Linked DNA regions of Homo sapiens: all the other regions are linked to region 3. The links come from fine-mapping of genetic effects on gene expression. A gene starts in region 3. Each other region holds a variant in brackets. All regions are shown on one strand. Distances are between the middles of the regions.

Region 1 (2,845 bases), 65 kb after region 3:
GCAGAGGCGGCTGGAGAACTTGGAGAACCTGCTGCGCAACAGGAACTTCTGGATCCTGCGGCTCCCTCCAGGTATTAAGGGAGATATCCCAAAGGTAATACCTTCATTTCTAGATGTAAAGTGGTACCACTAGAACTTACATTAGTAGTAGTCTTGGTCATTCAGTTACTTAGATTTTTTATTTCCTTTTAAAGTTTCTTAAAATATCTCAGTCTGAAAGAATCATGAAGGTGTTTTATGTTTGTCTATTTGGGAAACATTTTATGTTCAATTTAGTACCCATTTAGAGTGCCAAGATTCAGATTGGAAACCTCTTGCTGGACCAAAGTTGGCTATCTGGTAGATGGATTTTTTTTCTCTTTTGGTTTCTCCTACCCATTACCCATGAGCCGCTTCTTTCTTCGTTAACTTGTGTGCCAGATTCTTGGGGAGGAGACTACATAAATATTCTTTTAAATCAGTCAATTTGAGGCTGGGCGCGGTGGCTCATCCCAGCACTTTGGGAGGCTGAGATGGGCAGATACCTGAGGTCAGGAGTTTGAGACCATCCTGGCCAACGTGAGGAAACCCTGTCTCTACTAAAAATACAAAAATTAGCCGGGTGTGGTAGCACATGCCTATAATCCTAGCCACTCGGGAGGCTGAGGCTGGAGAATAGCTTGAACCCAGGAGTTGGAGGTTGCAGTGAGTCGAGATCATGCCACTGCATGCCAGGCTGGGCAACAAGAGCAAAACTCCTTCTAAAAAAAAAAAAAAAAGGCCTGGCGAGATGACTCACACCTGTAATCCCAGCATTTTGGGAGGCTGAGGCAGGTGGATCTCCTGAGGTCAGGAGTTCAAGACCAGCCTGGCCAACATGGTGAAACCCCGTCTCTACTTAAAATACAAAAATTGGCCAGGTGTGGTGGCTCACACCTGTAAACCCAGCACTTTGGGAGGCCGAGAAAGGCAGATCACAAGTTCAGGAGTTCAAGACTGGCCTGGCCAACAAGGCGAAACCCCATCTCTATTAAACATACAAAAATTAGCTGGGCTTGGTGGTGGGCGCCTTTAATCCCAGCTACTTGGGAAGCTGAGGCAGGAGAATCGCTTGAA[C/A]CCGGGAGACAGAGGTTGCAGTGAGCTGAGATTGCGCCACTGCACTCCAGCCTGGGCAACAGAGTGAGACTCCGTCTCCAACAACGACAAAAAAGAAGAATCACCTGGTAGGCTTTTAAAATTTTGGTGAGCATCACATCCAGATTCTGACCTAATAGGTCCAGGATGGAGCTTAAGCATGAATAATTTTTTAAAAACCTCCATAGATGATTCTAATATATGACTAGGGTTGTGAATCACTGATGTGTAGGGCATTTAAGACCAAGGAAAGGAATTTGGATTTTTAACTAAGGTGTAATGAGGAGAAATTGGAGGGTTTGAAGCAGAGGAATTATATTTGGTTATATATATATATATATATATATATTTTTTTTTTTTTTTTTTTTTTAATTTTTTTTTTTTTGAGATGGAGTCTCACTCTGTTGCCCAGGCTGGAGTGCAGTGGCGCCATCTCGGCTCACTGCAAGCTCTGCCTCCCGGGTTCACGCCATTCTCCTGCCTCAGCCTCCTGAGTAGCTGGGACTACAGGCGTCCGTCACCATGCCCAGCTAATTTTTTGTATTTTTAGTAGAGACGGGGTTTCACCATGTTAGCCAGGATGGTCTTGATCTCCTGACCTCGTGATCCGCTCGCCTTGGCCTCCCAAAGTGCTGGGATTATAGGCATGAGCCACCGCGCCCGGCCAGTTTTATATATTGAAAGAATCCCTTTGGCTGCTTTGTGGAGGATGGATCGTAGGGGAAGAACTGAAGAAGGGAGGAAATACTAAGGCAGGGAGGGATGCAAGTGGCTTGGATGAGGGTAGCAGTTGTAGAGATGGAGAGAAGTGGACAGATGCAGGATGTTTGGTGGTAGAACTGACAATAAGAGTTACTGATGGGAAGGCAGGGTGCATTGGCTCACGCCTGTAATCCCACCACTTTGGGAGGTTGAGGCGGGCGGATCATGAGGTCAGGAGTTTGAGACCAGCCTGGCCAACATGATGAAACCCCGTCTCTACTAAAAATACAAAAAAATTAGCTGAGCGTGGTGGTGGGCACCTGTAATCCCAGCTACTTGGGAGGCTGAGGCAGGAGAATCGCTTGAAGTTGAGGGGGAGGTTGCAGTGAGCCGAGATCACGCCACTGCACTCCAGACCAGGCAACAGGGCGAGACTCCATCTCAAAAAAAAAAAAAAAAAAAAAAAGAGTTACTGATGGGAATTAGGAAATAAGGCATTAAGAACAGTAATTGTAGGCCAGGCGCAGTGGCTCACGCCTGTAATCCCAGCACTTTGGGAGGCCAAGGCAGGTGGATCACCTGAGGTGAGGAGTTTGAGACCAGCCTGACCAACATGGAGAAACCCCATCTCTACTAAATATACAAAAAAATTAGCTGGGCCTGGTGGCGCATACCCGTAATCCCAGCTACTTGGGAGGCTGAGGCAGGAGAATCGCTTGAACCCAGAAGGCGGAGATTGCGGTGAGGGGAGATTGTACCACTGAACTCCAGCCTGGGCAACAAGAGCGAAACTCCATTTCAAAAAAAAAAAAAAGAATAATTATAAATTTACTGTGTGGTAATTTAGTTAGAACTTACTATTCTAAGTGTTCTACTTATTTTAAGGCATATGAGTCTCAGAAGAACCCAACTTGCCCGAGGTCACATAGTTAATATAAATAACAAAGTTGTGTTTTAACTAGGTTGGCTCCAGAGCAGATGCTCTTAACCACGTTAGGTTTACTGTCTCAGGCTTTCGGCTTGAAGAACT
Region 2 (2,500 bases), 21 kb before region 3:
AAGTATAGGCCGGGCACGGTGGCTCACACCTATAATCCCAGCACTTTGGGAGGCTGAGGTGGGTAGATCACCTGAGGTCAGGAGTTCAAGACCAGCCTGGCCCACATTTTATATTTTTTGTATTTTTAGTCTCTACTAAAAATACAAAAATAGGCATGGTGGCACGTGATGGCGTGCGCCTTTAGTCCCAGCTACTCAGGAGGTTGAGAAAGAAGGATCACTTGAGCTTGGGAGGTGGAGGATACAGCGAGCTAAGATCATGGCACTGTACTCCAGGCTGGCTGACAGAGACTCCAAAAAAAAAAAAAAAAAGAAAAGAAAGGCCGGCACCGTGGCTCATGCCTGTAATCCCAGCACTTTGGGAGGCTGAGGCGGGCGGATCACGAGGTCAAGAGATCGAGACCATCCTGGCTAACACGGTGAAACTCTGTCTCTACTAAAAATACAAAAAATTAGCTGGGCGTGGTGGCGGGCGCCTGTGGTCCCAGCTACTTGGGAGCCTGAGGCAGGAGAATGGCATGAACCCGGAAGGTGGAGCTTGCGGTGAGCCGAGATCATGCCACTGCACCCCAGCCTGGGCGACAGAGCAAGACTCCATCTCAAAGAAAAAAAAAAAGGAATTTATAATTATATATTATTCTGTATCTTTATATATTAATTATATATTCTATAATTTTTTTGAGATGGAGTCTTGCTCTGTCTCCCAAGTTGGAATGCAGTGGTGCAATCCCAGCTCAATGCAACCTCCACCTCTGGGGTTCAAGCGATTCTCCTGCCTCAGCCTCCGGCGTAGCCAAGACTACAGGTGCATGCCACCATGCCCGGCTAATTTTTGTACTTTTTGGTAGAGATGGTGTTTCACCATGTTGGCCAGTCTGGTCTTGAACTCCTGACCTCAAGTGATCCTCCTGCCTTGACCTCCCAAAGTAATGGGATTATAGGTATGAGCCACCACGCCAGGCTATATTCTATAAATTCTAAAGAGAATGAAAAGGACTTGCCAAGCTTCCTTTGGGAGATACTAAATTTGTTTTTTTTTTTTTTTTGAGACGGAGTCTCGCTCTGTCACCCAGGCTGGAGTGCAGTGGCTTGATCTTGGCTCACTGCAAGCTCCGCCTCCTGGGCTCACACCATTCTCCTGCCTCAGCCTCCTGGGACTACAGGTGCCTGCCACCACACCCGGCTA[A/ATTTTTT]TTTTTTTTTTTTTTTTGTATTTTTAGTAGAGACAGGGTTTCACTGTGTTTGCCAGGATGGTCTCGATCTCCTGACCTTGTGATCCACCCGCCTCAGCCTCCCAAAGTGCTGGGATTACAGGCGTGAGCCACCACCCCTGGCCCAAATTTTTTTTTTTTTTTTTTTGAGACAGTGTCATACTATGTCATCCATACTGGAGTGCAGTGGCACCATCATTGCTCACTGCAGCCTTGACCTCCCTGGGCTCAGGCGATCCTCCCACCTCAGCTTCAGGAGTAGCTGGGACTACTGGTGTGTACCACCATGCCTGGCTAATTTTTGTATTTTTAGTAGAGACAGGGTTTTGCCATGTTGCCCAAGCTGGTCTCAAACTCCTTGGCTCGTGATCCTCCTGCCACGGCCTCCCAAGTGCTGGGATTACAGGCATGAACCACTGTGCCTGGCCTAAATTTACTTTTATAACAATTACTTTTTAAAATGTCAGAACTTCCTTATAATTACACACATATATTTTTATACAAATGCACAAAGGTAATCACATCTTATCTGGATTTCTGTGTGCACCTTTTCTTAAAAATGTTAACAATCACATATAACCTCGTAGAAATTGTTTTCGTTTGCAGATGCCTCCTTTTTCATAAAATTATGTCCTTGTTTTATAATGCTGTCTTTTCCAATATAGCTGGGATCACGCCACTGCACTCCAGCCTGGGTGACAGAGCAAAACTCCATCTTGGAAAAAAAAAAAAAAAAGAAAGAAATATAATTGGTGATGCTTCTGAAGAGAAAATCCTTTGTGGTTCTTCATATTCCTAACTTGCATGACACTCTTGCTCAAAGAAGGATACCTGCTCCTAAAACCCGTCTACCAGCGGGTCTGGCTACTGTTGCTGTGGATTCCTGGGCAATACCAATCCTGCTCAACGCTTTGGATGTCCCACTCTGCCTCAACTCCAATCGGCCTCTATCATTGCAAACAGTTGGCTGAGCCTTTTCTTAATGTCCAGTTCATTTGGAGCAGGACAGGATTTTGTGTGTACTCTGATGTGCTCCGCAAGCTTAGACTTGTAAATGAAGCCCTTCCCACAATCGCCACAGGCAAAGGGCCTCTCGGGCCTGTGGATGCGCTGGTGCCTCAGCATGTGTCCCCTTTCCCGGAAGTTCTTGTCACACTCAGGGCAGTGAAAAGGCCTCTCCCCTGTGTGCAGGCCCTGATGGCTGAGCAGCTGCGCCTTCAGGCGGAAACTCTTGTCACACTTGGGACACTGAAAAGGCTTCTCTCCCGTGTGCGTTCTGATGTGCTCGATGAGCTT
Region 3 (2,845 bases):
TAGAGGCGTGAGCCACCACGCCCGGCCCTGTTGATCATATATGTAGCTAATTTATTTTAATTTTGTATAGTGTTCCACCGTCTGAATGTCACAAGTTTGTTTGTTTTTGAGATAGAGTCTCGCTCTGTCGCCCAGGCTGGAGTGCAGTGGCGCCATCTCAGTTCGCTGCAACCTCCACCTCCCGAGTTCAAGCAATTCTCCCTACCTCAGCCTCCCGAGGAGCTGGGATTACAGGCGTCCGCCACCACACTCAGCTAATTTTCGTATTTTTTAGTAGAGACAGTTTTTCGCCATGTTGGCCAGGCTGGTCTTGAACTCCTGACGTCAAGTGATCTGCCCACCTCGGCCTCTCAAAGTGCTGGGATTACAGGCGTAAACCACGGCGCCTGGCCTGAATGTCACAAGTTTTAAAATCCATTCTTTTACTCATTAATAATTTATTTTCAGGTCTGTGATTTGGCTGTTTATATCCTTTCCCCATATATATAGGTATGTATATATTTTTGGAGACGGAGTTTCGCTCTTGTTGCCCAGGCTGGAGTGCAATGGTGCAGTCTCGGCTCACTGCAACCTCCGTCTCCCGGGTTCAAACAATTCTCCTGCCTGAGCCTCCCGAGTAGCTGGGATTACAGGCGCCCGCCATCATGCCAGGCTAATTTTTTGTATTTTTAGTAGAGTTGGGGTTTCACCATGTTGGCCAGGCTGGTCTCGAACTCCCGACCTCACGTGATCCACCCGCCTCGGCCTCCCAAAGTGCTGGGATTACAGGCGTGAGCCACCGCGCCCGGCCTAATTCATTTAATAATCAGCAAAAATCCTCAACATTAAAGTTTACAAGATAAAAATACCCTCTAAACCTCGATTTTAAGAAACCACTAACTTAATTTTTTGTATCCTCTTCTACTCTTCCCAACGTATCATCTTACACTCAACCCAAATCACGCTAGACAATAAATTCTGACATTGAAGCCCCCGCCAAACACCATTTCAACCATTCGGAATCTTAAACTTTTTGGAACAGTTGTTCTGATTTCGGTGACTATGATGTAAAACTGGTTGACCTGTAACATCCACCTCTGGCCCCAAACCTTTCTATCCTTTCCACCGTCCGCTCCCCGTCCGCCCGGCATCCTCGCCCAGGCTCCGCCCCGCTCCTAGGTCGGCCTCGGTCCACGCTCGGCTTTGTCCAGGGGTTTGGCCACGGACAAGCCGCGGGAGCGGAGGCCACCTGCTCACCGCAGGGCCCGGAATCCACATCCCCAGCAGAAGCAGCCTGCAGACTCCGTCCTACCCGTGCACCGCGCGCACTCACGGGGACCCCAGGACACGGGCGAGCCCGGAACCCGAGGACCCACCACGACCCCGAAACCGGGCGTCCAAACAGGCTAGCCCGCTTACCCGAGGCGGCTCCGCCATGGTCCCCGCGGTCCCGCCCGGCCCTGGCAAACCCGACCGTCTCCGGCGGCTCCGCAGGAACCTGCCCTGCTGCGCACTGACTCCCCTCCGCTCCGCCCCAACCCGACTCCCACGCACAGCCCGGGTGGCCCCCAAACGCAGCGCCGGCCGGGCGCGGTGCATGCTGGGACCCGGCGCCCGGCCGCGGCTGCCGCTCAGTCCTACAGCGCCTCCTGCGGGAGGAAGAAGCGGCGCTGCCTGAGCGTCGGTCCTCAGAGGAGGGACCCAGGGGCCCGGGCGCCCTCAGAGCAGGCCGCAGCACGCCGGTCTTTGAGGGACCCTCGGATTCCCGGGATCTGGGGAGGGAAGCGGTCAGAGACAAGCTGAGGAGCTGGCCGGAGGGGAAACGGAGGGGCAGGACATGGAGAGATCAGGGACAGGGACAGGGAGAGATCAGGGACAGGGACAGGGAGACGCGCTCCACAGAAACCCAGACTGAGAGGCAGCGAGAGGGGAACCTCCGGTGCGGTTCCTCCCAAAGCCGCCCCCGAGACAGGCTTCGTCTGTGAGGGGGTCCCGGGAATCCAGCGAGGCCGGAAAGTGGGTGGGGGGCGCGCGCTGCCCGCGGTGGCCCGGGGCATCCGTCCCGCCGGGGGCGCGGAGGCCGTGGGGGCCCCATGCTTGTCCCGCCGGGGACGCGGAGGCGGGGTCCGCCCACCAGGTCCGGTCGCCGTGGGTCTAGAGCCCTCCGGGCTCCCCGGGCGGCCACGCTCCTTCCTTAGCAGAGAACGGCCTTGGGCAGAGACCCCATGCGGAAGCCACCCCGGCCTCAGGGCCGCCTGCAGGGACTCAGGGTGGCCCAAGGCTGCGGTCGGGCACCCCGGGCCCCGGCAGGAGACAGAGACAGAGTAGGAGGAGAAGACGGAGGAGGCCATGACACAGGGCGTGAGAAACACGAGAACGCAAGAACAGGGGAGAGGTGGGGAAACCAGGAAGAGACAGAAAGGAGAGAGGGCGAGGAAGGGGGTGGCGATTGTCTCCAGAAAATCAACCTCGCATTCTGTCTTAGTCATGTCTTAGGTGTCAGGCTGAAGTAGCAAAGGAAAAGTGTGTAGTTTGGAGAGGATGTGCATAAGAAATAAAATAGTCCCTGCGTAGGCTGAGGAGCATATACGCATCTGTGTTTGCCACAGAATCGTGAAATGTACATGCACCTTACTGTTTAACGTTTTTTATTTTTACAACTGTTATACAGTACAATTTTTTTTTTTTGGAGACAAAGTCTCACTCTTGTCACCCAGGCTGGAGTGCTGTGGCGCAATCTCGGCTCACTGCAACCTCTGTCTCCTGGATTCAAGCAATTCTCCTGCCTCAGCCTCCCGAGTAGCTGGGATTACAGGCATTTGCCACCACGCCCGGCTAATTTTTGTATTTTTAGTAGAGACGAGGT

Which allele goes with the higher level. Positions count from the first base shown, and alleles are read on the strand shown. Sizes are in standard deviations (SD) of each study's normalised expression. Not every link is listed here.
With allele C in place of A in region 1, the expression in monocytes of the gene that starts at base 1,494 in region 3 is lower (large effect, 1.0 SD a copy in Schmiedel 2018).

Evidence for each region. PIP is the estimated chance that this variant, and not a neighbour inherited with it, causes the effect.
Region 1: its variant is the best candidate, but not a certain one, in a credible set for the expression of ZNF786 in monocytes (Schmiedel 2018, PIP 0.77).
Region 2: its variant is the best candidate, but not a certain one, in a credible set for the expression of ZNF786 in whole blood (INTERVAL, PIP 0.54).

Annotation. Positions count from the first base shown.
Region 1 is chr7:149,154,247-149,157,091 of GRCh38, forward strand. ZNF398 (zinc finger protein 398) reads left to right here. Exons shown (of 6, transcript NM_170686.3): 2 at 1-94. Among named protein-coding and RNA genes, the nearest start is that of ZNF398, 8.2 kb to the left of the region's middle. RefSeq lists enhancers at 1,887-2,454, 2,455-2,845. The variant C/A (reference allele first, on the strand shown) is at 1,096.
Region 2 is chr7:149,068,289-149,070,788 of GRCh38, forward strand. ZNF786 (zinc finger protein 786) reads right to left here. Exons shown (of 4, transcript NM_152411.4): 4 at 1,353-2,500. The coding sequence ends at 2,135. Among named protein-coding and RNA genes, the nearest start is that of ZNF786, 21 kb to the right of the region's middle. The variant A/ATTTTTT (reference allele first, on the strand shown) is at 1,187.
Region 3 is chr7:149,089,225-149,092,069 of GRCh38, forward strand. It overlaps ZNF786 (zinc finger protein 786), which reads right to left and starts at 1,494. Exons shown (of 4, transcript NM_152411.4): 1 at 1,399-1,494. The coding sequence starts at 1,416. RefSeq lists silencers at 1,436-1,735, 1,856-2,345.